Homo sapiens: one gene and its partners. The protein of the gene in region 7 interacts with the protein of the main gene of each other region in a pairwise test. Each region holds a gene or a part of one and is shown on either strand. Other genes may lie near its edges. The genes, in order: ZNF829, RAI2, SPMAP2, DCAF8, LARP4B, MKRN2 and DR1.

Evidence for each region.
Region 1: the proteins of DR1 (region 7) and ZNF829 interact in binary tests that used the Homo sapiens proteins (3 or more experiments, as listed by UniProt).
Region 2: the proteins of DR1 (region 7) and RAI2 interact in binary tests that used the Homo sapiens proteins (3 or more experiments, as listed by UniProt).
Region 3: the proteins of DR1 (region 7) and SPMAP2 interact in binary tests that used the Homo sapiens proteins (3 or more experiments, as listed by UniProt).
Region 4: the proteins of DR1 (region 7) and DCAF8 interact in binary tests that used the Homo sapiens proteins (3 or more experiments, as listed by UniProt).
Region 5: the proteins of DR1 (region 7) and LARP4B interact in binary tests that used the Homo sapiens proteins (3 or more experiments, as listed by UniProt).
Region 6: the proteins of DR1 (region 7) and MKRN2 interact in binary tests that used the Homo sapiens proteins (3 or more experiments, as listed by UniProt).

What each region holds. Positions count from the first base shown.
Region 1 is NC_000019.10:36,892,084-36,896,384, reverse strand, and holds part of ZNF829 (zinc finger protein 829), read left to right. Parts: intron 1-3,166; exon of another isoform or gene 3,167-3,567; intron 3,568-3,913; coding exon 3,914-4,301. UniProt on the Homo sapiens protein: May be involved in transcriptional regulation.
Region 2 is NC_000023.11:17,799,056-17,802,606, reverse strand, and holds the end of RAI2 (retinoic acid-induced protein 2), read left to right. Parts: intron 1-572; 5' UTR 573-596; coding exon 597-2,189; 3' UTR 2,190-2,558; downstream 2,559-3,551.
Region 3 is NC_000019.10:360,664-363,854, forward strand, and holds the end of SPMAP2 (sperm microtubule associated protein 2), read right to left. Parts: intron 1,764-3,191; coding exon 1,537-1,763; 3' UTR 1,084-1,536; downstream 1-1,083. UniProt on the Homo sapiens protein: May be involved (but not essential) in spermatogenesis.
Region 4 is NC_000001.11:160,224,220-160,228,520, reverse strand, and holds part of DCAF8 (DDB1- and CUL4-associated factor 8), read left to right. Parts: intron 1-2,857; coding exon 2,858-2,930; intron 2,931-3,401; coding exon 3,402-3,459; intron 3,460-3,971; coding exon 3,972-4,079; intron 4,080-4,301. UniProt on the Homo sapiens protein: May function as a substrate receptor for CUL4-DDB1 E3 ubiquitin-protein ligase complex.
Region 5 is NC_000010.11:924,811-929,111, forward strand, and holds part of LARP4B (la-related protein 4B), read right to left. Parts: intron 3,855-4,301; exon of another isoform or gene 1-3,854. UniProt on the Homo sapiens protein: Stimulates mRNA translation.
Region 6 is NC_000003.12:12,573,844-12,578,144, reverse strand, and holds part of MKRN2 (E3 ubiquitin-protein ligase makorin-2), read right to left. Parts: intron 3,354-4,301; coding exon 3,139-3,353; intron 1,515-3,138; coding exon 1,404-1,514; intron 1-1,403. UniProt on the Homo sapiens protein: E3 ubiquitin ligase catalyzing the covalent attachment of ubiquitin moieties onto substrate proteins.
Region 7 is NC_000001.11:93,352,066-93,356,366, reverse strand, and holds part of DR1 (protein Dr1), read right to left. Parts: intron 2,460-4,301; coding exon 2,296-2,459; intron 1-2,295. UniProt on the Homo sapiens protein: The association of the DR1/DRAP1 heterodimer with TBP results in a functional repression of both activated and basal transcription of class II genes.

The DNA of each region.
Region 1 (4,301 bases), on a different chromosome or scaffold from region 7:
CAGCCTCCTGAGTAGCTCGGATTACAGGTGCATGCCACCACGCCCAGCTAATTTTTTTTTCTTTCTTTTTTTTTTTTTGACAGTCTTGCTCTGTCACCCAAGCTGGAGTGCAGTGGTGCGAACCCGGCTCACTTCAGGCTCCGTCTCCCAGGTTCACACCATTCTCCTGCCTCAGCCTCCCGAGTAGGTGGGACTACAGGTGCCTGCCACCATGCCTGGCTAATTTTTTGTATTTTTAGTAGAGACGAGGTTTCACCATGTTAGCCAGGATGGTCTCAATCTCCTGACCTCGTGATCTGCCTGCCTCAGCCTCCCAAAGTGCTGGGATTACAGGCATGAGCCACCGCGCCTGGCCACACCCAGCTAATTTTTGTATTTTTAGTAGAGACAGGGTTTCGTCATGTTGGGAAGGCTGGTCTCGAACTCCTGACCTCAAGTGATCCTCCCGCCTTGGCCTCCCAAAGTGTTGGGATTACAGGCATGAGCCACCATGCCCAGCCCTATCTCTCTTTTTAGATCTAATAATATTTGCTTATATATCTGGGTGCTGCAGTGTTGAGTGCCTATAAATTTAGAACTTTATATCCTCTGGCTGAATTGACCCATTTATCATTATATAATGACCTTCTTTGCTTCTTTTGCAGTTTTTTACTTAATGTCTGTTTTATTTAAGTATGGCTACTCTCACTTGCTTTTGGTTTGTTTGTGTGCAGTATTTTTTTTTCATCTCTTCACTTTCAGTCTATGATTTTATATATAAAGTGAGTTTCTCACAGCCAGTATATAGGTGAGTCATATTTATTTTATCCATTCAACCAGACTGTATCTTTTAAGTGGGGAATTTGACTGTTTACATTCAAGGTTATTATTAATAGGTGAGGATTTATTCCTAATCTGTTAATTTTTTATGGTTGTTTTATATCCTTTTTCTTTCCTCTTATCATTTGGTTTGGTGGTTTTATGTAATGGTTACATCTGAGTCCTTTCTCTTTCCATTTGTGTATCTGCTCTACCAGTGAGCTTCTTATTTTCATTTGTTTAATGATGGTAGATATGTCTTTTACTTCCAGATGTAGGACACCCTTTGCCATTTTTGATCGGGCCACCCTAGTTGTGATACATTTTCTCTGGGAAAAACTTTCTCCTTCATTTTTGAAGGATGGCTTTGCTAGGTACAGTATTCTTGGCTGACAGTGTTTTTTTAGCACTTTGAATATATCATCCCATTCTTTCCTGGCATGGAAGGTTTCTGCCAAGGTATCTGCTACTAGTTCTGATGAGGGTTCCCTTGTATGTGACTTGACGCCTGAGGGTTCCCTTATATGTGACTTGATGCCTTTCTCTTGCTTTTTTTAGAATTCTCTGTCTTTGACTTTTGACAGTTTGACTGTAATGGGCCTTGGAAAACCTTTTTGGATTGAATCTATTTGGGCATCATTGAGCCTTCTGTATCAGGATGTCTATATTGCTTACAAGACTTGGAAAGTTTTCAGTTATTTTGTTAAATAGGTTTTTATGCCTTTGCCCATCTCTTCTCCTAGAATACCCAAAATTTGAATATTTGGTTGCTTTATGATGTCCCATATGTCATCTAAGCTTTTTTCAGTTTTAAAAATTATTATTTTTTACTTTTTCTTCCTGGATTCTTTTAAAAAACCCTGTCCTCAAGTTCAGAAATTCTTTCTTCTGCTTGATCTAGTCTATTGTTGAAGCTCTCAATTGTGTTTTTTATTTCATTCATTGAAATTTGTCAGTTTCAGGACTTCTGTTTGGTTCTTTTTCATGATATCTATCTGCTGAATTTCTCATTCAGATCATGAATTGTTTTTTCTGATTCTTTTGGTTTTTATCCATGTTCTATTGTTTCCCACTGAGCTTCTTTAATATCATTATTTTGAATTCTTTTTCAGGCACTTGATAGATTTCTTGTTTGTTGGAATCTGTTGCTGGAGCATTATTGTATTACTTTGGAGATGTCATGGTTCCATGCTTTTTCGTGTTTCTTTTATCCTTACATTGATATCTGTGTATTTCTTGTTATGGTCATTTTTTCCAATTTTATGGATTTGTTTTCATAAGGAAAACCTTTTTCCTGTAGATGTATTTATAGTGTTGGTTGGGTAGGTTGCTTTGGCTTTGTTATAGGTGGATGCAGTGGTATAATCTCCATATGATTTCTCTGGCTGCAATCAGTGTCAGCAGTGTCTGTGAGTTCCTCAGTGGCTTAGGGCTTGGTTGTTAGTGGAAGCTGTGATGAGGCTTTTCTCATTGTTAGCAGGGCCAACAATGGTGATAGGATGAGGGGTATGCCAGGTAAAGGGGAGATCCATGTGGGAAGGCCCTGAGGGGCAGGGAGAACTTGAGGTGCTTGAAGGACTGGGGCTTCTTGAGCAAGTGGAAGTGGAGTATAACACAAGGTTGTAGAGGTAGGCAAGAGCCTCATTATTGGAGTCTTCTTGGTAATTACCAAGGAGTTTAGATTTTCAGGAGGGCAAAGTGAGACCAAATATCACACCAGGTGCTGAATGGATTAGAGGGTGCTAGAACATACTGGGGAAACCATTAGGAGATTCCTGTAGTGGTCTAGGAAAGAGGGGATTCAGTAATTAAATGAGGACAACTTTAAGAGATTTTTAGGGACTCACCCAGACTAAGTTTGGCCAATGATTGTGTGGAGGGAATACTTAAGATAGTCTAGCTGGCTTTATTTTGATGTCTTCAAGCCATTTTATTTGCCCAATATCTGTTTTTGCTATGACATTTTTTCATAATAATAGCTACCAATACTGAGTGCTTACTTTATATCAGATTATTTATATACGTTATTCCTCATCTTTTTAGCAATCATAAGTTAAGTGTCAGTCCCATTTTAATAAACAAGGAAAAGAGGGCTCAGAGGTTGCCTTAAAGCATAGAACTGGGGCTCACTGTTTATATGTTGACATGGAGTTCCATTCTTCTCATAGAGTACATTTCATCCTATCTTAACTCTCTTGTGTCTCAAACTTGAGCCACCTTCCTTCTCAATCACTGCTATGACTTGAATTATTCATTTCTTTCTCCCAAGGTCAACATCACAGAATTCCAGAGCAAATTATTTTCAGTGAGTTCCTAGCCCATATCATGCTGTATGCACAGAAGAGATGTACCTGTCTACTCTTCCCACCAGTTGTGTTCAGCATATTAGATTTGTCGGAGGCTGGTGATTTGCCAGTATACCATTGCACAGTCACTGAACTCCACCCGCCCCCGACATTTAAACCTTTCAACACATTTGTTATTCTTAACAGTCCTTTCATGTAGGTCTGACAGTTATCTACGAATTGCAAAACATACAGTATCATACTCTGTGCATGTGAGCATATGTTTATGAACGTGTATATAATTAGAATATCTCACGCATGGTGCATGCCCTGGAGCAGAAGCGGCATCCTGCTGGCCTGTCCTCCTCCATGGCCCTCCAGCTTAACCCCTGCCTGGGCATGCTGATGGCCTTGCAGTCGGAGCTCCACAAGCTGTACGACGAGGAGACACAGAGCTGGGTCTCAGGCAGCGCCTGTGGGGGATCTGGGGTGGGGGCAAAAAAAATTTTTTTTTTTTAATTAGAATCTCTCTATAATATGGAGGATGGTGCTGAACACTGTGTATTCACCAAGGCTTAAGGTGACTCTGGTTCAGACCAAAATTTGAGGATCATAGAGGTCATCTACTTTCTGAATCCACATCCTCAGCTTCTTTTATTACCTCTCCTAATGTCTGTGCTTTTCTTGTCAGTTTTACAGATTGCCTCTCCACCTTTGAAAACTGTGTAATTTCTCAGATATTCTTTTCAGTTTAATTCTCCCATTTCTTTTTTAGAAGTTTTAACTTGCCCAGAATAGGAAAATTTATTTGCCTTTGTATTTTCTTTCAGATCTGGAATCAATGTGTGAGACCAAAATATTATCTCTAAAGAAGAGACATTTCAGTCAAGTAATAATTACCCGTGAAGACATGTCTACTTTTATTCAGCCCACATTTCTTATTCCACCTCAAAAAACTATGAGTGAAGAGAAACCATGGGAATGTAAGATATGTGGAAAGACCTTTAATCAAAACTCACAATTTATCCAACATCAGAGAATTCATTTTGGTGAAAAACACTATGAATCTAAGGAGTATGGGAAGTCCTTTAGTCGTGGCTCACTCGTTACTCGACATCAGAGGATTCACACTGGTAAAAAACCCTATGAATGTAAGGAATGTGGCAAGGCTTTTAGTTGTAGTTCATATTTTTCTCAACATCAGAGGATTCACACTGG
Region 2 (3,551 bases), on a different chromosome or scaffold from region 7:
AATGTCATTGGTCAGAGGGAGACAGAGAGACAACTGTAATGACCCTTGTGCTTATCAAACCTCTTTTGGAAGAATGATTGCTACAGAGTATTTAAAATGCCATTTTCCATAGTCATAGCATATTCACATGTGACAAGGCATTATTTTTTTCCTTAAAGGAAAGTAAGTCTTCACTGCTTATTTGAATTTGAACAAGTCAAATTTCTACATATCTTAACTGTCTGACATAGCAACTTGGACTGAAACTTCGTTTTTGTTGAAGGCCAAACATATAAGCTGAGAATTAGGCTTAAAAAATGCCTGGTTTAACCTCACTTGGCTATTTACTGATTACATCATCTGCATTTATAGCTTAATCATCTGTTAAATTGGGGTTCTCCACGCACACAGGATCATGTGGTTGTGTTTGTATATATTAGGAGATATCTATAACCTGAACATATACATAGAGAGATGGGTTATGCTCCCTGGTTAACTAAAACGTGGAAACTTTCTAAAGATGTGAGAGAGCTCTTAAGGCAATTATAAATAGTCTTTTAAGGAAGATTCATATTGTATGTTCTGTGTTGCAGGCCAAGTGGCATCAGAGCTGAGTGATGGACGACCTGCAGTCCCAGAACCTCTCCATGGACATGACTGACTCCCCTCCTGCCTTGGCTAATAACAGACTGGAGAATGGCATGGCTCAGCTGATCACCACCGAGGCCTGGAACATCAACTCCACTGACCTGGTAAAGAAGGCCCTGGTGACCGTGCCAGCCCCATCCATTCTGAACCCCCCTGCCGAGTCTCAGAGTGGCATGGCTCTGAAGGTGGCGGCCACTGTGTTGCAGCCCCTGTGCCTCGGGGAGAGCCCAGTGGTGATGCCCATTCACATGCAGGTGGAGGGAAGCTCCGCACCAGAGCTCAATCCGAATGGCAATGCCACCTACGTCATGACCACCCAGGGCCCCGTGCAACTGCCCGTGGTGCTGGAGCAGCACGTCTTTCAGCACCTCAACTCCCCTCTGGTCCTGCCGCAGGAGGCCCCATGCTCCTCCAGTACCATCCACAACAACCTCTTCCAGGGAGCGGAGGACCCCGAGGCCCAGCCCCAGCTCCTGGACCTGAGGATCCCCAGCCAGCCGCAGGAGCCCACTTTGCCATTTGAAGCTGTGCTCCAGAATTTGTTTCCCTCCCAGGGCACTCTCGGGCCCCCACCCTGTCAGCCTCCTCCTGGCTATGCCCCTGTGCCCCCACAGCCTTTTAGCTCCCCCTTGTCCCCCCTGGTCCCACCAGCCACCCTCTTGGTGCCGTATCCTGTAATCGTCCCCTTGCCTGTGCCAGTCCCTATTCCCATCCCCATCCCGATGCCTCAGAGTTCTGAATCCAAGTTCAGCTCCAGTTTCCCCAAGCCACCATCTTCCTTCGGCCTGCACCCCTTTAAAGGCACCCAGACCCCTCTGGAAAAAGATGAACTGAAGCCCTTTGACATCCTCCAGCCTAAGGAGTACTTCCAGCTCAGCCGCCACACGGTCATTAAGATGGGAAGTGAGAACGAGGCCCTGGATCTCTCCATGAAGTCAGTGCCCTGGCTCAAGGCTGGTGAAGTCAGTCCCCCAATCTTCCAGGAAGATGCAGCCCTAGACCTGTCAGTGGCAGCCCACCGGAAATCCGAGCCTCCCCCTGAGACACTGTATGACAGTGGTGCATCAGTGGACAGCTCAGGTCACACAGTGATGGAGAAACTTCCCAGTGGCATGGAAATTTCTTTTGCCCCTGCCACGTCCCATGAGGCCCCAGCCATGATGGATAGTCACATCAGCAGCAGTGATGCTGCTACCGAGATGCTCAGCCAGCCCAACCACCCCAGCGGCGAAGTCAAGGCTGAAAATAACATTGAGATGGTGGGCGAGTCCCAGGCGGCCAAGGTCATTGTCTCTGTCGAAGATGCTGTGCCTACCATATTCTGTGGCAAGATCAAAGGCCTCTCAGGGGTGTCCACCAAAAACTTCTCCTTCAAAAGAGAAGACTCCGTGCTTCAGGGCTATGACATCAACAGCCAAGGGGAAGAGTCCATGGGAAATGCAGAGCCCCTTAGGAAACCCATCAAAAACCGGAGCATAAAGTTAAAGAAAGTGAACTCCCAGGAAATACACATGCTCCCAATCAAAAAACAACGGCTGGCCACCTTTTTTCCAAGAAAGTAAATAACGGCTTTTTAAAATTTGTATGATTATAATATGGGGAAAGGTGCATTGGTTTTATAAAAAGGCATTTAAAACAAATTATCTTTGTTAATTATTTTGGGGAGTAGTTGGGAAATGGAAAGGTGAATTGGCTCTAGAGGCCCTGTATGCTAGTATCATTTTCTTTTTTAATTTTTGACTTTTCACAAATGAGTAAATAAGAGCAACCTATTTTTCAAGCAGATTGCACATTTTTTGCAGCTTTAATGGAATATTGGGTGAATTAGAGGGGTAAAAAAAGCTATTTTCATTGCCACAAAGTGCTTTGATGATGTAATACCTAATAAAGGGTAGGATGAATATTTCACAATAAATGTTTGTTTGCACTAATTGGTTGCAGTATTTCATCATTTATAAAATTTACATTCCTTAACTGGCATAATTTGGCCAAAACTCTTGCTTGTGAAAAGCTGTAAGTTATCTGTGATTAGAGACCTAAGCTTTTCAGGCATATTGGAAAATATTGCCCTATGCCCCAGTAAAAGGAGGGTTAGGAATATGGATGACCTTGAGCAAGTCATTTCCCACTTTGGCCTTGGGTTTTTTAAATTTCATTTGTAAAATAAATAAATAAATAAGTGGCAAAGAAAAGGGACAGCGAGGTGAGTTTCAAGTGCCTGAGGCTCCTTCCAGTTCATATAGTTCTTGGGTGTGTAGAATTCTGTGCCTGGACCTTCCATAGTGTAAGACAAGACAAATGTCTCACAACAAAAAAGTAACCTGCTTCCTTCCCACCAACCAAAAGTTTAGTTGGAAATGCCCTTCTTTTCAAGGGCAGTAAGAGCATTGTTCTCAATGATTGAAAATCTTGCAAGTCAGAAGTAGTGGCGCAGGCTAGTGGATCAAGAGATGGCTCATACTTTTTCCCAGCCTTGGATAGAGATCTTTGAGGGTGGAGCCAGGGAGAGAAGACAAAGTCATTCTTTTCTAGTTTAGCCTGGTGATTATCAAATGGGGTGATTGTAACCCCCGGGGGATATCTGGCAAAGCCTGGAGACACTTTTGGTTGTCGCAGCTGGGGGGAGAGATTACTACTGGCATCTAGTGGGTAGAGGTTAGGGATGTTGCTAGACATTCTATAACACACAGGACAGCCCCTAGACCCCAACAAAGAATGATCTGACCTGAGATGTCAGTTGTGCTGAGGCTGAGAATCCCTGGTTAAGCCATTTCTTGACGGACAGAAACGATGCGCGTGGAAGGAGACTGCAGCTCTACCCTGACAGCAAAGGCCACCCACACAAATGAGGAACTGGAGGAACTGTGAATGTGCATTTAGAATAGACCTGCTAGGTGGCACAGCACACTTGTGTCTGAAACTGT
Region 3 (3,191 bases), on a different chromosome or scaffold from region 7:
GTCCCGTGGGCCCTCAGGAGGAGCGTCGGCTGGTTTGACTGTGGCTGTCGTTCCTACTCCGACGGTCCCGTGGCCCCTCAGCAAGAGCATCGGCTGGTTTGACTGTGGCTGTCGTTCCGACTCTGACGGTCCCGTGGGCTCTCAGGAGGAGCGTCGGCTGGTTTGACTGTGGCTGTCGTTCCTACTCCGACGGTCCCGTGGCCCCTCAGCAGGAGCATCGGCTGGTTTGACTGTGGCTGTCGTTCCGACTCCGACGGTCCCGTGGGCTCTCAGGAGGAGCGTCGGCTGGTTTGACTGTGGCTGTCGTTCCGACTCTGACAGTCCCGTGGGCCCTCAGGAGGAGCATCAGCTGGTTTGACTGTGGCTGTCGTTCCGACTCCGACGGTCCCGTGGCCCCTCAGCAGGAGCGTCGGCTGGTTTGACTGTGGCTGTCGTTCCGACTCCGACGGTCCCGTGGCCCCTCAGCAGGAGCGTCAGCTGGTTTGACTGTGGCTGTCGTTCCGACTCCGACGGTCCCGTGGCCCCTCAGCAGGAGCGTCGGCTGGTTTGACTGTGGCTGTCGTTCCGACTCCGACGGTCCCGTGGCCCCTCAGCAGGAGCGTCGGCTGGTTTGACTGTGGCTGTCGTTCCGACTCCGACGGTCCCGTGGCCCCTCAGCAGGAGCGTCGGCTGGTTTGACTGTGGCTGTCGTTCCGACTCCGACGGTCCCGTGGCCCCTCAGCAGGAGCGTCGGCTGGTTTGACTGTGGCTGTCGTTCCTACTCCGACGGTCCCGTGGGCCCTCAGGAGGAGCGTCGGCTGGTTTGACTGTGGCTGTCGTTCCGACTCCGACGGTCCCGTGGCCCCTCAGCAGGAGCGTCGGCTGGTTTGACTGTGGCTGTCGTTCCGACTCCGACGGTCCCGTGGCCCCTCAGCAGGAGCGTCGGCTGGTTTGACTGTGGCTGTCGTTCCGACTCCGACGGTCCCGTGGCCCCTCAGCAGGAGCGTCGGCTGGTTTGACTGTGGCTGTCGTTCCGACTCCGACGGTCCCGTGGGCCCTCAGGAGGAGCGTCAGCTGCTTTGACTGTGGCTGTCGTTCCGACTCCGACGGTCCCGTGGGCCCTCAGCAGGAGCGTCGGCTGCTTTGACTGTGGCTGTCGTTCCGACTCCGACGGTCCCGTGGCCCCTCAGCAGGAGCGTCGGCTGGTTTGACTGTGGCTGTCGTTCCGACTCCGACGGTCCCGTGGCCCCTCAGCAGGAGCGTCGGCTGGTTTGACTGTGGCTGTCGTTCCGACTCCGACGGTCCCGTGGGCCCTCAGGAATGGACGAATAAGTCTGGACTGAAGAGATTCAGAAGGCGCTCGAGATGGTCAATGAAAGTGACTCGGAAAATAAACAGCTGGACAAGTCGCAGGTTGGATGCAAAAATAAATATTATTGTCCTCCTCATCCTTCTTTTGGCCTTCTAGCCCGCCCTCCCTTCTCCAGGCCAAAAAGCTCAGAATAATCACATACACAGGGTTAGGGTGCCTGAGGGTGTTTACTGGGAGCGGAGGTCTTAGAGGCCAGGCCTGGGTTGATCACACTTTTCTGGTGATGCTTTTGGGGGTGGCAAGCTCATAGAGGCGAGGGGACGCCTGTCGTATCCCTCGTTGAGGCCCTTGCGCACTTTGGGCTTGGCCAGGGAGATGATCCGGGGGCTGGCCACCACCTTCTTGGTGACATCCAGCACCTCCCAGCGAGGATCTCGGTCAGGAACGCACTTGTCCGACTGAGCTTTGGGCCCTAGTGGGGGCAGAAGAGAAGGACAGCACTGAAGCTCAAACCTCAAAGCTCCACATTCAGGCTGGGCATGGGAGCTCACACCTGGAATCCCAGCACTGTGGAAGGCTGAGGCAGGTGGATCACCTGAGGTCAGGAGTTAGAGATCAGCCTGGCCAACATGATGAAACCTCGTCTCTACTAAAAATACAAGAATTAGCTGAGCGTGGTGGTGCGTCTCTAGTCCCAGCTACTCGGGAGGTTGAGGCATGAGGATGGCTTGAACTTGGGAGGCAGAAGTTGCAGTGAGCGCAGATCGCGTCACTGCACTCCAGCCTGGGCAACAGAGCAAGACTCCATCTTAAAAAAAAAAAAAAAAAAAAAAAAAAGCTCCCCCATTCAAACGGCCTGCTCATCAGCAGAGAAACGGAGGATGAAAATGTAGTCCACTCAGAGTGGAATATGACTCAGCCAAGAAAAGGAACGAGGCTCTAGCACCAGCTACAGCATGGCTGAGCCTTGAGGACAGCATGTGCTGCGAGAGACCAGAGACACGAAAGGACACACAGTGTGTGATTCCATTTATACAAATGTCCAGGACAGGCCAATCCAGAGTCCGGAAGTGAACGTGTAGGTGCCAGGGGCTGGGAGACGGGAATGGGGAGTGACAGCTGATGGGGGCGGGGCTGCCTTCTGAAGGCATAAAAAGGTTCTGAAATTGACTGTGGTGGTGGTTGCATAACCCTGTGACTGTACTAAAAGCCACTGAAACATATTTTTTATTTTTATTTGTTTATTTATTTAGTTTGATACAGAGCCTTGCTCTGTCGCCCAGGCTGGAGTGCAGTGGCGTGATCTCGGCTCACTGCAACCTCCGCCTCCCAGGTTCAAGCAATTCTCCTGCCTCAGCCTCCTGAGTAGCTGGGACTACAGACGTGCACCACCACAGCCAGCTAATCTTTCTATTTTCAGCAGAGACGGGGTTTCACCATGTTGGCCAGGCTGGTCTTGAACTCCTGACCTCAGGCGATCCGCCCGCCTCAGCCTCCCAAAGGGCTGGCATTACAGGCGTGAGCCACTGTGCCTGGCCTATTTTTTATTTTATTTCATTTTATCATTTTATTTTACTTTATTATTTTATTTCATTTTGAGACAGAGTCTTGCTCTGTTGCCCAGGCTGGAGTGCAGTAGCATGACCTTGACTCGCTGTAACCTCCGCTCCCCAGGATCAAGTGATTCTCCTGCCTCAGCCTCCCGAGTAGCTGGGGCTACAGGCGCCCGCCACCACGCCCGACTAATTTTTTGTATTTTTAGTAGAGACAGGGTTTCACCATGTTGGCCAGGCTGGTCTCGAACTCCTGACTTCAGGCAACCTGCCCGCCTCGGCCTCCCAAAGTACTGGGATTACAGGTGTGGGCCACCGTGCCCGGCCCCATTTTATTTTATTTTGAG
Region 4 (4,301 bases), about 67 Mb from region 7:
GTAAAGAAAAAGAGAATATATCAGGTGAATCCTTTAGTGGTAAATTTGGCTGACATGAAAATTTATTGCTAAAGGATTAAGTATAGGCCCTGATTGATGAAGCACAGTCAGTAAATCATCTCTTCATTCCCCAGTTCTTAAGCCAACATCAGCAACACTGAGAGAACATTAGATTAAAGGCAGGTATAGAAGAGAGACTTAGGGTAACAAGTTAGTGGGTGCCTGAAGGCATGTGGGAAGAGATGTGGTAAAGGTGTGCACACTATTCCTTACGTGACTTAAAATGTCAAGGGGCTTGGTGTGGTGGCTCATGACTATAAAACTAGAGCACTTTGGAAGGCCAAAGCTGGAGGATAGCTTGAGGTCAGAAGTTCAAGGCCAACTTGGGCAATATAGCAAGACTGTGTCTCTACCAAAAAAAAAAAAAATTAAGAAAAAATTTTAATTTTTTAATTAATTAAATATCTCCAGGTGTGGTGGTATGCTCCTGTAGTCCCAACTACTTGGGAGGCAGAGGAGGATCTCTTGAGCCCAGGAGTTTGAGGCTACAGTGAGCTGTGATTACACCACTGCACTCCATCCTGGATGACAGAGTGAGACCCTGTCTCAAAAAAAATAACTAAAAGTAAAATATAAACTATCAAGGGCCTATCATATGTTCAGAAAGTGGTAGGAAAGTTTGTATTAATCTTTCTATGCTTACTGTCTATCACAGGGCTTGACAAACTGTAGTGCTTGTTTTTATAAATAAAGTTTTATTGGAACACAGCCATGGCCTTACTTTACATGTTGTTTATGACCACTTTCATGCTACAATGGCAGAATTCAATAGTTTTAATAGAGATTAGATGGTTTGCCAGTTTACCAGCTTAAAACATTTACTGTCTTGTCCTTTAAGAAAAAGTTTGCCAAACTCCGTTCTAGCATCATATGTAGAATATAGTAAGCTATTAATAAACACTTAGTTGGGGTGTAGTGGCTTATACCTGTAATCCCAGCACTTTGGGAGGCTGAGGCAGGAGAATCTTTTGAGGCCAGGAGTTTGAGACCAAGCTGGGCAGATGCTGTCTCCACCAAAAAATAAAAATATTAGCTCAGCATGGTGGTGTGTGCCTGTAGTCCCAGCTACGCGGCAGGTTGAGGCGGGAGGATCGTGTGAGCTGGGGATGTCAAGGCTTAAGTCATCAGTAACCTAACTGCCAAAGCAAACAAAGTACTTTTCAAGTCTTTTTCTCTACTCTTGACATTATTACTCCTTCCCTGAAGCACCTTCTCTCCTTGATGTCCAACCACTCCTCAGTGTTGTTCATGGGTGTGTCTTCCTTTCTCCACCCATTAAATGCTGATGTTCTCCAGTAGCTCAGTCTTCAGCTCTCATCTTACTCTATACCAGGGAATTTTAACTTGAAGTACAAATATTATGTGAACCTCCAGAAAGTATGCTTATGTGCATTTTTCTGGGGAGAAGGGACTAGAGTTTTCATTATATTCTGAAACAGGCCAGAGATTCTAAAGGGCGAAGGGAAAATCTTCTCTGTATTTTCCCTTGGAGATCTAATTCCATTACCAATGCTTTAACTACCACCTTTCACACGGATATATGACTTACATCTGTGTCTGCAGACCACACTTATTCTGAACTCTAGACTTACACCTACTTAACAAATGGATATAATTAACTGATGACTTCAGCCAGAGAAGTCTCAGTGGTGAGTTGAGAACCAAAACCAGATTAGGATGGACTGAGAAGTGAATAGGAAGTAAGAAAGTGGAAATATTGAATGTTGATTGTTCTTTTCAGTAGTGTAACTGTAAGGGGAAGGAGAAAAAAAGCAATAGTAGGAAAGGACAGTCAGCAGAAGGATTTTTAGAAAGTGGCCAGCTGGTGATGAGGAAGAGGTTGAGAAATTAGATAATCATCAAACAAGGTCCCTGGAAGGATGAAATGAAAAGCATTTTTCAAGAGATTGGCTCTGAGATTGGAGGAGACTGGGTGAGAACAGATACTGGATCTGTCTTGTTCCTCACTGTATTTCTAGCACCTAGCATAATATTTGACACATAATATGTGTGTCCTCATGAGTTTAAAGCTTGGATTAGAGAGAGGAAGGAAGGTGAAGGTGTAGTGTGCTTGATAAGAATGAGGAAAGGAGAGGGAGTCTTGAGGATATGGGTGGTAGTTTTTAATAATTATTGTGGGGTATGAGAGGGAGAACAGGCCAAATACAGTTTTAAGGAGGGATTACAGACCCATTGACTTACATTAAGCATGGTTTCTGCCCGTGAGTAACCTTTTTCGGTAGGTAATGTACATGTAAAAAGCTCCATACTAATGTTAGTTGTTTCAGTGAAAAGTAGCAGTATGTGATATAAAACTTGAGGAGAGAGATAAACCACTTCAAACTGACAGAATTGAGGATTGCCACTTAAAATGGGAAGTATGTGGATAAAGGATTTAAGGGTTTGCCTGGCCAACAGATGAAACTCTGTCTCTACTAAAAATACAAAAATTGGCCGGGCGTGGTGGTGTGTGCCCATAGTCCCAGCTATTTAGGAGGCTGAGGCAAGAGAATTGCTTGAACCCATGAGGCGGAGGTTGCAGTGAGCCGGGGTCATGCCACTGCACTACAGCCTGGGTGACAGAGCAGGACCCCATCTCAAACAAACAAAAGATTTAGGGTTTGGAAATGGATTGGAAAAGGGATGCCCTTTAAGGAAGAGCACAAACCAAAAGCTTGGTTTGGAAAATGTTGTTTATCTGCATCCAGCTGGCAGTTTCCTGCCACTACATCAAATTGCAGCTCTTCAAGGGTTTCGTTTGTACATTTTTACATTTTCATTGCTTTTCCAACTGTAGGATTTATGACCAGAGGAAAATTGATGAGAATGAGAACAATGGAGTACTCAAGAAGTTCTGTCCTCATCACCTGGTAAGATTCATGAAGGGCCAGTTGCTGCAGGCTTCCCTGACTCAACCCCAAGGCTGCACCTGAACTTGTTGGTATGGTGGGAAGAGCTTGGACTTTCAAGTCAGTCATCTGGATTTGAATCCTGGCTTTACCACTTACCAGCTTTGTGATCTTGGCAGTCACTTCACTTCTGATAGCCTCAGTTTTTTAATCGACAAAATAGAAATAAAAATAACTGCCTTGCACCTTGATGGTGAGGCCTAATGAGACAGTGTACATAAAATGGCTAGCACATGGATGACAACCAAAAGAAAGCCCCAAGATGCTACCCCCTGAGGTGGTCATGTTTCATCAGTTGTACTCTTGTCTCTGTCTGTCTTTCTCAAATCTCTGGGAGAAGATATAGGGGAGTTTGAAGGAAAAGCTGTTTCCTGAAGATGGTATAACAAATGGGGGGGTGGGGCATCAGTCAGTATCTGCTCCTTATTGCAGGTGAACAGTGAGTCCAAAGCAAACATCACCTGTCTTGTGTACAGCCACGACGGCACAGGTACGTGAGCAGGGCCCAGCTCCTAGGCTGGCATGCCCCCTCTGTCTAGGGAGCTGCTGAGCCAGTGAGGCATGTGCCCTCCAGTGCTCACCACTGTGCTATAGCTCCAAGTAGAGCAGCTGGGGAGTAACTGCTGATGGTGAGCACATAGCGGGAGGATACAGTAGATGACCCTTGGAGATGCCAGGTACCATTTGCAGAATGCTGCAGATGATATTTGGCAGGGCCTGTCCTGAAGCCCAGGTTGCTTGCCTGAGCAGGTTCTTATGCCTTTGACTCATTCCTGAGTTAATGGGTATGACCTTTTTGAGCATTCTGCTGCCCCTGGGTTGGCAGTGTGTTCTTAGTCTACCCTGTACAGTCGGACTTGCCTGGTGTTCCAAATAAGATGGGTGCTACACCTGGGTATTTGGAGGGGGCACTACTGGCAAGAAGCCCCACCCCAACCCCCACCTCCTGGTCCCTGCTTTTTTCAGCCTTTGCCTTCACTGCTATGTTCTTGTTCTTGGCAGAGCTCCTGGCCAGTTACAATGATGAAGACATTTACCTCTTCAACTCCTCTCACAGTGATGGGGCCCAGTATGTTAAGAGATACAAGGGCCACAGAAATAATGCCACAGGTGAGACTGTCTTCCTAGGTTTCTTTGGCCCAAGCCTGTTGGCTTTGGAGAACCACAGTGTCTTACTCAGGTTATACAAATAGAAACTACCTGCCTGTGTTGCCATGGGCACTGAGGGATTATCCTGAATTGGGCTGGAGTTTTCATGTTTTCTCCGCTATGCTAGAGGAGAAAGCGCTCAAGAGCATCTCTTGCCACTCCAATAATGTTGCTTCTAATTGG
Region 5 (4,301 bases), on a different chromosome or scaffold from region 7:
GTCTCAATGGACACCAAACTCCAAGAGATGGCAATCTATCCCTCTTGTTCACCATACTGGGATCTACTCATCAACTATTTAGCGCATGCTACCTACCAGATATTGTTCTAAGGCTTAGGTTCATACTGAGGAGCAAAATATAAATCTTGATCTCATAAGAGTTTACATTCAAGTATGAGAAGACGGGCCATACATAAATTAGTAAGTAAATTATATGGTATGTTATAGTGTCATAAATACTATGAAAAAAGTACAGCAAGAAGGGGAGACAAGGAGAGTGCAGGGCAGGATACACCATAATATATGTGACTGTTGTAGCAGACTATCCAAAGAAGCATGCAGCTGAGAGCCAGCCACTTCCAGAGGCCAGTCTCTATGGCTTTACATAGAACAATGCACTTTCCTATTCCTGCTGGATGACGGGCCTTACAGAAAAATCCTGTTGCCTTTCATCTTTGCATCCCTAGTGTTCAACTGGTCAGAACACCTGCCACAGGAAGAAAATGAACCCTTTTCTTACCGTAATCTCAGTGGCCCTCCTTTATGCCAGGCCCTTTAGCAATACTTAACAGAAAATAAAAAATGGAAAAACATCCACTAAAGTTTAAAAGATACATTTTCAATATTGCAATTGTTTCATTTTGGGTTAACATGATGTTTTTATTTTAAAGCAAAATAAAGGTAAGAAATTCTATGGCTATCTAAAAGGGGGCATTTATTTTATTTTATTTCATTTTTTTTCAGACAGAGCCTCACTCTGTCGCCCAGGCTGGAGTGCAGTGGTGTGATCTCAGATCACTGCAACCTCTGCCTCCCGGGTTTAAGCAATTCTCCCGCCTCAGCCTCCCAAGTAGCTGGGATTACGAGCACGCACCACCACGCCTGGCTAATTTTTGTATTTTTAGTACAGACAGGTTTTCACCATGTTGGCCAGGCTGGTCTCGAACTCCTAACCTCAGGTGATCCACCCGCCTCGGCCTCCCAGAGTGCTGGGATTACAGGCGTGAATCAAAGTGCCTGGCCGAAAGAGGGCACGTTTTTAAAGACTGAGAAACAGTATAATTTAAAGGTCATGTGGCTAAATTACTCTATCTGAAAATACTTTATGCGCTAAATGTAGCTATGAAAAGTCAGTTAAAAACTTGTAAATATAACTTTTATACTCTATAAGAAACTTTCTAATGTATGCTTTTTGAGTAAAGATTTTCCTATTTGTTTACAGAAATGTGCAAGTATACAATCAGCAAACAATTTCTCTGGAACACAGGTGGGAGATGTCTTTGAGCATTCTTATCTCTTTACTTGAATTACTTTCACTAAACATCTACAGTTTACCAGTCCCTGGGCTGGGCAGAGGTGACAAGCATAAAAAGAGAATCTCACTCACAAGGAGCTTACATTAATTATGTGCTAAGTAACACAAAGGTACACTTAGTTGCTACAGAAACAGAGAAGCATAATCTCAGAAGTTAATGCAAAGCAGTCTGGAGGACTCCTAAAATATCTTTTTAAGGATGGTTTAAGGAGCTAAGTAAATATTTTAAAAATTTTTTTAAAGGAGGTGGACATTCAATTTCAGTCAAAGAATCTACCAACAGCAATGGCTACAACGTTTGCAACACCAAGGTAGGAGAGGGAGGCGTGGTCCTGATTAAAAGGTGGGGCAGGGCAAGAAGGAAGACACAGAAGTGGAAGCACACACAGGGCGAGGCCTAGGGCAGTCCTGATGAGTTTCTGAAAAGAGGCCAGCCATCAGGCTATGCCACACTCTGGCTACAGTGCGACTAAAATGATTTGTGTAAATAAAAGAGCATTTTATTGGGCAAATTTATGCACATCAGACTTCATAAAGAACACTTTCAGCAAAGATCAAGTCTCATCTCTATGATTATCATACTCCCCCTAAAAAACTAAGCAGTACGCTTTCAAATTTGTGTTAAACATGGCCGGGCGCAGTGGCTCACGCCTGTAATCCCAGCACTCTGGGAGGCCAAGGCAGATGGGTCACTTGAGGTCAGAAGTTCAAGACCAGCCTGGCCAACACAGTGAAACCCAATTTGTACTAAAGTACAAAAATTAGCCGGGCGTGGTGGCACGCACCTGTATGTAGTCCCAGCTACTCAGGAGGCTGAGGCAGGGGAATCGCTTAAACCCTGGAGGCAGAGGTTGCAGTGAGCCGTGATCGTGCCAGTGCGCTCCAGCCTGGGCAACAGAACGAGACTCGGTCTCAAAAAAAAAAAAAAAAATTGTGTTAAACATGAAATACTTTCAATATTGCAATGTACTCCATGGTCTAGGTCTCCTAACCAGGGCAATGGGGTTGATGGGAAAGAAGATGTAAAACCAGTAGCATCACTGAACTGCAAATCCTTTATGGTTGAAATAGGAGCCATGACAGCTTCACCAGAAAAACTATGAGAAGACAGAGTTTATAAAGGCATTGAAGGGACAAAAGGTATTAAGGTATGGGGTGGCGGGGGGGCAGTGAGAAAGAGAAGGGAAGGAAACACAGCTGAGTTAATAATTTTCCTTGTTCCTAAGGAAGGCATTTACACACAGGAAAAACAAAGCATTAGAACGTTAGGGGAAAAAACTTTCAAGTTGGAATTTATCTCCCTTCTTTTGAGAACCTAGCAGTTTTCTACCTTACAATTCCATGTTCTAAAAAAGGAATTCATTTTCCAATCAAAATAACTCTAGAAGTAGAGTAGTTACAAAGATATCAACCAGCATAAGAGCAAAAAGTTTAAACTGAACTAAACTCAGACCTGATGAGGTTAACTCTCTGAGTGCCTCATTTACTTCGTACTCTAAAATAAGCTTTTACAGAAAAAGGAGAACTCTTCACATCAATAAAGTTCTACAAAAGAGCATAAGCAAGGAAACCCTTACAGCAGTGTCTGTTTTTAACAAGGTATTTTCCAAAAACATGACTTCAGTGTTCATGTCTTCTCCCCATTGGAAAAAGGTTGTTTTGAGAATTTTGTAGAAGAAATTACAAGAATATACTCCAAGATTTTTGTGCAATTTATCAATCTGAAAAGAATATCCCTAAATCTGACAGAATCTATAAGAGTACTGTATGCATGATAAAAGCATATTTAAAACTTGTACCTTTGGCCAGGTACGCCGTGGCTCACGCCTGCAATCCCAGCACTTTGGGAGGCCGAGGCGGGCGAATCACCTGCGGTCAGGAGTTCAAGACCAGCCTGGCCAACATGGTGAAATCCCAACTCTACTAAAAATACAAAAAAAAAAAAAATTAGCCAGGTGTGGTGGAGGGCACCTGTAATCCCAGCTACTCGGGAGGCTGAGGCAGGAGAATCACCTGAACCCGAGAGGCGGAGGATGCAGTGAGCCAAGAACGCACCATTGCACTCCAGCTTGGGCGACAAGAGTGAAAGTCCGCCTCAGGAAAGAAAAAAAAAAAAAAACTTGTACCTTTAACACTAGGATAAAAACAAATGAAATCGATTGATGGTAACACATCTATACAGCTTTTTTACAACTTTGAGAGGCCCTAACATAGACAACACGTTACTAAGATTAGAAGACCTAGATTATAATCCTAGCTATCACTATTTTGACGGAAAATATGAATTTTAACATGACAATGAAATAACAGTGAAAGGAGTTTGTCAGCCACTCCTTGGCTGGTAACATCTACCATAGCCTATCACTACAAAAACTTGCAAATCTATGTAGAGTAGCTGCAGCTACCTGAAGGCACTGTTCATTGTAAACACCATTAACAATTTGATGTCCCAATTTGCATGTTTTGGGGGTGGGGGGAGACAAGGTCTCACTGTTGTCCAGGATGGAGTGCAGTGGCAGGATCATGGCTCACTGCAGCCTCAACCTCCCAAGCTCAAGCGATCTTCCCACTTCAGCTTCTCCAACAGCTGGACTACAGGTGTGAGCCACCATGCCTGGCTAATTTTTTGATTTTTTGGTAGAGATGAGGTCTCTCTATGTTGCCCAGGCTGGTGAACTCCTGGGCTCCTAAACTCACCTAGGCCTCCCAAAGTGCTGGGATTACAGGAATGAGCCACCTCACCCAGCCTGCACGTATTTTAGAACTACATTTTAAGATAATGTGAAGACTGCTTCATAAAAACACCTTAAATATATACTTGTCAAAACTTGTGCTTACTTATGGAAATTGCATTAAATTCAATAAATTCTTTAAATCTCACTTTTAAAAATGGCAATCTTCCCGAACATTAAACCAAATTACATTTCTCCCTGAATTTGCTGCCACTTAATTTCAGCTACTCTTCTACAGAATAGTACCCATGTTA
Region 6 (4,301 bases), on a different chromosome or scaffold from region 7:
AAAAGTGCTCAAAGGCTGTGTATAAACTCTGCCCAAATCTGACTAACTCCCAAACCACACAGGAATGCGACAAAGTCAGCTACGAATGCAAAACCAGAACTGAGATCTGAACTGCTACCTGGGTTTGAGTTCAAACAATTTACCTGCCTGTTAAAAACAGCAACACTTGGCCAGGCGCAGTGGCTCATGCCTGTAATCCCAGCACTTTGGGAGGCCGAGGTGGGCGGATCACCTGAGGTCAGGAGTTTGAGACCAGCCAGGCTAACATGGTGAAACCCCGTTTCTACTAAAAATACAAAAAATTGGCCAGGTGCAGTGGTGCATGCCTGTAATCCCTGCTACTCGGGAGGCTGAGGCAGGAGAATCGCTTGAACCCGAGAGGCAGAGGTTGCAGTGAGCCGAGATTGTGCCACTGCACTCCAGCCTGGGCAACAAGAGTGAAACTCCGTCTCAAAAAAAAAAAAATCATCACTTTACAGATAAACCATAACAGAATCCTAAGTCTCTCTACAATGTAATATTTACAATGTCAAGGATAAAATCTAAAATTACTAGACATACGAAGAATCAGGAAAATGTGATCCATTCTTAAAAGACAACAGAGGTCAACTTCAAGATAACAAGGATTTCAAAGTAGCTGCTACAACTATGTTCAAGGAGATGAAAAGAAAAAAAGATTGAAAAAGAATGAATATCCCCAGAGATCTATGAACAATATAAAAAAACTATCATAAACGGAAGTAGAGTCCCAGCAGGAAAAGAAAAAAACAAGACAGAAAAAAAGTTAATGAAACAATAGCTAAAATTTCGCTCATCTTGGGGAGTGACATAAGCGTAGAGAAAAACCACTCCACTCCTAGGCAAAATATCAACATGCTGACAACCAGGATAAAGAGGAACATTTGAGGCCGGGCACGGTGGCTCATGCCTGTAATCCCAGCACTTTGGGAGGCCGAGGCAGGAGGATCACTTGAGCCTAGGAGTTCAAGACCAGCCTGGGCTACATGGCGAAACCTTGTCTCTACCAAAAAAAATTAGCCAATTAGCTGGGCATGGTGGCGCACACTACTGGTGGCCCCAGCTACTCAAGAGGCTCCTGCTTGAGCCCAGGAGGCTGAGGCTGCAGTGAGCTGAGATTGCACCACTGCACTCCAGCCTGGGCAACAGAGTGAGACCCTATCTCACCGAAAAAAAAAAAAAAAAAAAAAAAACACCAAAACTAAACAGGTCCACATCACCATGTCCTTGCTCATTGCTGCATCCCAGAGCCCAGCATGGTGCCTGAGAGAAGGAAGAGAGGAAGAGGCCCCTAAGACCACACTCCTGGGAAGGAGAACGAGGACACGGGCTGACAGCAGAGCCAGGCAGGCAGCAGGGGCACGTCGAAACTCAAAAGCACTTACCCCATCCCCTGTTTGAAAGCTTCAATCAACTCGTTCTTTTTATTCTGATCTTCCACCCAATACACACTTGGAATTACAAACTCTGATATCACACGGCATTCTGGACAAGACCTGAAATAAGAATTAGATTACTAAGGGAGAAGTCATGTTACGAAGCCTGGGCACACTCTCTGCTAAACCTCTTGCTCAACTGCCTCACCACTACAGGCATTTCCTTCACCAGAAATTCCAAAAGATGAAATCACAATCATCCAAGAACCTTATTTACTATTAACAAAATAGGGTTTCCCAATGAGAACACATGGACACATGTGGGGGAACATCACACACCGGGGCCTGTCGGTGCAGGGGCAAGGGGAGGGAGAACATCAGCACAAACAGCTAATGCATGCATGGCTGAAAACCTAGGTGATGGGTTGAGAGGTGCAGAAAACCACCGTGGCACATGGATACCCATGTAACAAAGCTACACATTCTGCACATGTACCCCAGAACTTAAAGCAAAAAAAATACACACACACACACACACACACACACACACACACACACACATATATGGTTTCCTCAACAAAAAAGACAGATGAAATAACCCTCATACATTGCTGGTGAGAATGTAAAAGGGTGCAGCCACTTTGAACAGAGTCTGGCAGATTCTCCAACAGTTTAATGTAGAGTTATTATACCATAAAACCTAGCAATCCCACGCCCAGGTGTATACCCAAGAGAAATGAAAACACATGCCCACATGCTGTGTTCACAAATGTTGACAGCAGCATTATTCATAATAGTTGCAAAGTTAAAACAGCCTAAATGTCCACTAGCTGAGGAATGGATAAGGGAAATGTGCTGCGTCCATACAATGGAACATATTCCGCCAGGAGAAGGGGACTCTGGCACATGCTACAGTCGGGATGAACTCTGACAACACTATGCTCAGTGAAAGGGGCCAGGCACAAAAGGCCCCAAATTCTATGATTCCATTTATAAGAAGTGTCCAGAATAGGCAACTCTGTAGAGACAGAAAGCGGATGAGTGGTGAGTTAAATTGTGGGCTTTTATCTCAATAGAGCAGTTGTTTCACCACACGATTTTAGGCAAATTACTTGACCCCCGCACCCCAGGCCTGTTTCCTAATCTGTAACTGAGGAGGGTCTTTGAGGGAATGAGATGAGCGGACAGATGTGGAGTTCTGAACAGTAGAACGCGTGCAGTAACCTCTCCACATGCCAGCTCTTCCCCTGTCCTGCTGGAGAATTTGAGACTCCTATGTTGGCCACATTGAGCACATCCCATGTGCCAGGCATCATGCAGAATGTTTTACATGCATTATTCCACTTCATCCTCAAATAACCCTATTTTCGTTTTTGGTGGGGGGAAAAAACGAAGCTCAAAATGATTAACAGGCAACTGGGCTACAGGCAGGTACTACTGGATTTCAAACACAAGGCTAGGAGATGAAAACAGGTCAGTGCCATTTAACACCTTTTTACACAGATCATCTTTGCTGAGTTCCTCCCCAACACCCAGAAAGCTTGGTAGGAATTGTTGCCCATCTTTTATAGGAACAGGCACTTAGGCTCAGGAAGAGTAAATGACTTGCTGAAGTTCATGCAGCCAGGGGCCAGAACTCACCAGTTACTCTTGAGGGTAACGGAGGGCTTAAAAGTGGACGGAATAAAGTCTCAAATCAAACATTCTCCTAGCTCCCACAGCTAAGACCCCTGGCTGTACTTACTTAATGATTGGGTTTTCAAACTGTTTGGCACACCGCCACTGCCGGATGCAGGACAAACAGTACGTGTGATTGCAATTGGAGAGAATCCCAAATCTCCTCTCAGAAGCAGAGGCCTTCTCCAGGATCACTTCCATGCAGATACTGCACACTTTGTCCTGGCTTGCCTGGAAGGCAAAGGCCTTTTCCATCTCGTGTTCGAACGTCAACATGCAGATCTGAAGCACAGACAGGAAGGAAGGCTTTGGTTGTGGGCCACTGAGGAGTGGCAGGAGCCCTAGGAGTAGCTGCAGCCACACTGCCACAGCTGAGATCAGGAAGGAACACTGACAGCGACTGCTGTGAGCAAAGGCCCAGGCTCCCCCAAGTCAGGACACTGACATCTCCCTCAGACCACACAAAGGACTTCAAACCATCACTGGTCCAGCCCCTTGCTTTCCTAGGAGGTGACATGGTCACCACCCATTTAGGACTGAGAACACGGAGATCCAAAAAGGTTAAACTGCAGTGGAGTCAGAGTCCGTAAGGACTGCGGCCCTAGTCCCCCAGCTCCTCTGGGCACTGTTTCCCCCGACTCTGAGCCATGTCTACATCAGAGATGCTGACTCGTCCTTACCATGAGGCTTGAGGCTGGCAGCCTAGTCCTATGTAAGAAGCACCACTTCTCCCCAAGAAAATGATTCAATGAATTCATTCATTCACTAGGCATGCCCTGAATTCCTTCTATGTGCTGGCATTTGAGCAAGAGTGAGAAGACCTAGGCCCAGCCCTTGTAAGCTCAGTCTGTCCAGATCTGAGACAAGCCAACACTCACCGCAGAGACCTCACACACTTGCATAAAGAAGACAGCTCTAACCCTCTGCTTCCCTGGAAGACAATGGAGAGTGTCTCCTTGTCCGCTGCCACATGGAGTCAGTACTAATTTACCTCTTGATTATCTAGGAATACGCTGTCCATTTAAACATGCCTTAGGCCAGGTGCAGTGGCTCACACCTGTAATCCCATTACTCTGGGAGGCCATGGTAAGAGGACTGCTTGATCTCAGGAGTTCAAGACCAGCCTAAGCAACATAGCAAGACCTCACCTCTGAAAAATAAAATAATTTTTTTTTTTTTTTGAGACAGAGTCTCTCTCTGTCGTCCAGGCTGGAGTGCGGTGGTGCAATC
Region 7 (4,301 bases):
ATGAGGCTGAAGCAGGAGGATCCCTTGAGCCCAGGAGTTCTAGGCTGAAGTGTGCCTGATCGAGCCTGTCAATAGCCACTGTGCTCCAGCCTGGGCAACATGGTGAGATCCTGTCTCTTTAAAAAAAAAAAAAAGTTGATTGATAAAATTTTATTTGTATTCATTTCCACAAATTGAACATTTTTCAGTGATATTTACTGTAATATATTTTTTTCTCTCTTGCCCCCTACTCAATCCATCCCAAGTATTTTTCTTCTAAAATTGGGGTGTGAAAGACAGGTAAGCAGGCATGTATTTCCTAATTCACTTTTCTTTTGGAGGTTTTCATTATGTTTTAAGATTCTCACTCCCACATATTAAAATGACTCATTTATAATTTAAAGTTAACTTTAATCTTGATGTATTAAAGGTTCCCTCCTTCCAAATATTTGCTGCTAGCTTCAAATGAGGCTGTCATTGTGTTAATATTTAAAGTCTAAAAAATGAAACAAAATGAAAGTGATAAAAAAGATATATTTACTTATCCACTCTTTCATATTTAGAACTTCAGTGCTCTAGGGAAGAAGTACTAGGCAACTGCTATAATATTACCTCTCCGCTGGTCATCCTCACAATAGTAAAGAAATACTAGAGATCTTCATACATAAGTCAGGGTAAGAAACAAGGGAGACAAAAAAGAGGAATAAAAAAACAGATAATAGGGATAGAAAGGTGAAGACAGATATAGCAGGCAGTCAATTATTTCTTTATATTTTGCCCTGGCAAGGATAATACATATTCTATTTAAAAGCCCCATAATAAGTTTAAGCATATAAAATGGAGGCTAGAGCATCAGCATGGTATGTTAGAAACAGTACAGGCTTTTGGGTCAAAATACCTAAGTTTAAATATAGACTCCAACACTTCCTAACTTTCTGAACTTACTGTTTTATTTAAGTCAATCTTTCCCACTCAATCTTCCCCAGTAGATTAAGCTCTATAATGACAGGAACCCTGTCTCCTTGTTCACTCTTGTAAGCCTAGCACCTAGCATGATGCTTGGTAAATAGTAATGACTTCAGTAAGTAACTGTAGAACAAATGACAAACAATTTCAAGGAAGTTTTTCCGCCTCTGAGTCTATTTTTTAATATGTAAATGAATACAATAAAATTTATATTTCATAAAAACTCTGCCAAGTTTTTATGTATTTAAAGTATCCAGGAGAAAATCTTCTGTCACTAAATGTTCAATTTAGCATTCTCTAGGTGGTCTGCAATATCAATAAATAGCCATTAATGTTTTTAAAACATCAACACCTCTTCTTTTGTACCTCATATTCATATGAATTATAACATTGCATGTACTAACGCCTGCTTCAAAGGCTTTTCCTCTTTAGTGCCTATGATAGGTTGTTGGGAGGATTAAATGAGATAATGCAGGAAAATTACTTGGCAATGTGATTAACACGTGGTTAGAACTCAATAAATGTAAGTTTTTCTTTTTATCTTGTTTAAATGGTACTTGGTGTCTAGTGACCAACAATACTTAAGACTAAAATGCAGTTTGATGTAAACCAAACTGATTGTTATGGCTGCAGAGAGATCAGCTACAGGACTAACCTGGAAGAGTTTACCTAAAATGATACTTCCCAGTTCTAATGGTTACTACGGCTTCTCTTCTATTCAATCCAAAGCTGCCTTATAATTTCAAATGAGAGGCCAGAACTTAGAAGGGAAAACACAGCATTGCCACCAATTCCCCTCCCTTCTCTTTTTGAAACAGAGAACATTAGTATTTGGTTCTAATCCTTCAGAGTCTAGATATTAGAATTATTACAAGCAAGGAAGAAGACATTTTCTCCCTTTGCTCTACTAGCTTTAAAATATTTTTTAAGATTAAAATGCTTCAAAGGTGTATATTAAAGACCTAATTTAACTACACAGTTGATATTAATCAGATTTTGCTGGTATGTCATGCATCATAAAATTTGATATAGTATTTTCTCATCAGCTCATCATTTTAAATCTTAAGAATATTTAGGTATACTTTTCATGCCTTAAAATGGTCATTCTGTCTGAAAAAATATCAAGTGAAATTTCAATAGGTATTTGGAGTTGTTCTCTTTAGAACAGATTGCTGCAAATATTTACTTTCACATAAACCAGAGTCAAATTGGTCAGCTCTGAACACCAGAATCTATAATCAACTACCTAGAAAAAGGGAATCCTCTGGGTATGTCTGTTAATTTAGGAAGCAATTTCAGTTAGCAAACAGGGTAGGATTCAGAGGAAAATAATTTAAATAAATTACTTACTTTTGCAAATAATTCTTGTTGCTGTCTCAATAACTCTTCTTCAGGAATGCCAAGGTTTTCCAAACGAGAACTGGCCTTTCTTCTTTTTAATGCTACTGTTTTACACTCTTGCAAGACTTCTTTTACTTCACTGATGTAAGAGCCAAATCCCAAACTTTCTAGTGCTAGAGAAATGAAAATATTAAAATATGAAAGGGTGATAAAACACAGCTTTCCCCCAACCCGTAGACCTAAAGTTTTTGTGGGCTTTTCTTTGGGGGAGGGGAATGTTTTGCTGTTTTCTAATAATTTTACCTATTTTATAGTTGTACAACAACTGTCTGGGCAGCCAAGACAAATATTTTATCAATCTGCTAAATATTAGGTGGCAAATCAGTTAAAACTTGAAGAACCAAGGCACATGCCTTCACTTTTCATTCTGACTAATTTTTAAAAGACCAAAGCATTTCCTGTAAGCAGGGAAGAAAAAAAAGCCCATTATAAGAACATATGGTTTTAGTAAGAAAAAACATTTTGTGTCATTTGACTTAGAAAAAGTAGGCTGGTAACACATTCTCTACTAAGTTCTGGTAGGACAGAATAAAAGAACAGAAGTTTTTCTTTTGTCCAATATACCAACAGGAAGCTATTTTTAGCAGATACTCAAACTGCCAAGTTTAAAAAATACTGGTGGAAATAAAAGTCATGAAATTCAGCACTTATAGTCAGCCAACAGGTTTCTCTTGAAAATAAAACTTAACAGGAAAAATAAAAACATATTTAAATGATGTGGCAAAAAAAACGTAGCTGAAAGACTATAAAGATACAAGAAGCACTAATAAAAATGTTTCTCCCCTTTTCGTATTTAGAAAGGAAATTTTATAAGGAAAAAAAAATGGGCTAGGCATGGTAGTTCATGCCTGTAATTCCAGTACTTTGGGAGGCCAAGGTGGGAGGATCCCTTTAGTCCAGGAGTTCAAGACCACCGCGGGCAACATGGCAAGACCTCGTCTCTACAAAAAGTAAAAAAATTAGTCGAGTGTGATGGGTCGTGCCTATGGTTCTAGCTACTCAGGAGGCTGAGGTGAGAGGATTGCTTAAGTCCAGGAGATTGAGGATGTCACGAGCCATGACTGCGTTACTGTACTCCAGCCTGGATGACAGAGCAAGACCCTGTTTCAAAAAAAAAAAAAAAAAAAAATTCACACACCCTAAATACCTTCTGTAATCCAGAAAAGACAAGGCATAAAATTTCCTTTTGGGTCATAGTATTTAAAATTATATTTTATAGTTTTGGTATATTGACTAATGCCCCAAAGGCATATTTTGTATTGTGAACCAATGATGAAACATAGGTGGCAAAAAACAGTAAATCAATTTAAGTCATCAGTTCTTGAAGTCTTTCAATCATTATGTTGAACCAGACTCCTTTTAGTATACATGCTCTCACTTCTAACTTCAGGGATTTGCTCTTCTGGGAGAATGCCAAAAACACCTTTACAAATCTACATGCCCATGCAAACTGTGGTTTTTAGACATTTTGAATGATTTACAACTTTAAGTATTTCAAATGTTAAGCTGTTTTCATCAACCTTCTTTAGAAATAATCTGATGCCAAAAAGCATAGTACTGTCCTATTATTAAGTTAACTCACTTCCCCTGACCTCCCTAAAAACTTCAGAAAGGCATTATTCTAAGTTCTGTATATCAAATTCACCAACATGGCCAGGCACGGTGGCTCACGCCTATAATCCCAGCACTTTGGGAGACCAAGGCAGGCAGATCATGAGGTCAGGAAATCGAGACCATCCTGGCTAACAGGGTGAAACCCTGTCTCTACTAAAAATACAAAAAAAATTGGCCGGCGTGGTGGCAGGCGCCTGTAGTCCCAGCTACACGGGAGGCTGAGGCAGGAAGATCGCTTGTGCCCAGGAGTTTGAGGCCACAGTAAACTATGACTGTGGCACTGCACTCCAACCTGGGTGAGAAAGCAAGACCCTGCCTCTTAAAAATTAAAAATGAAGCAA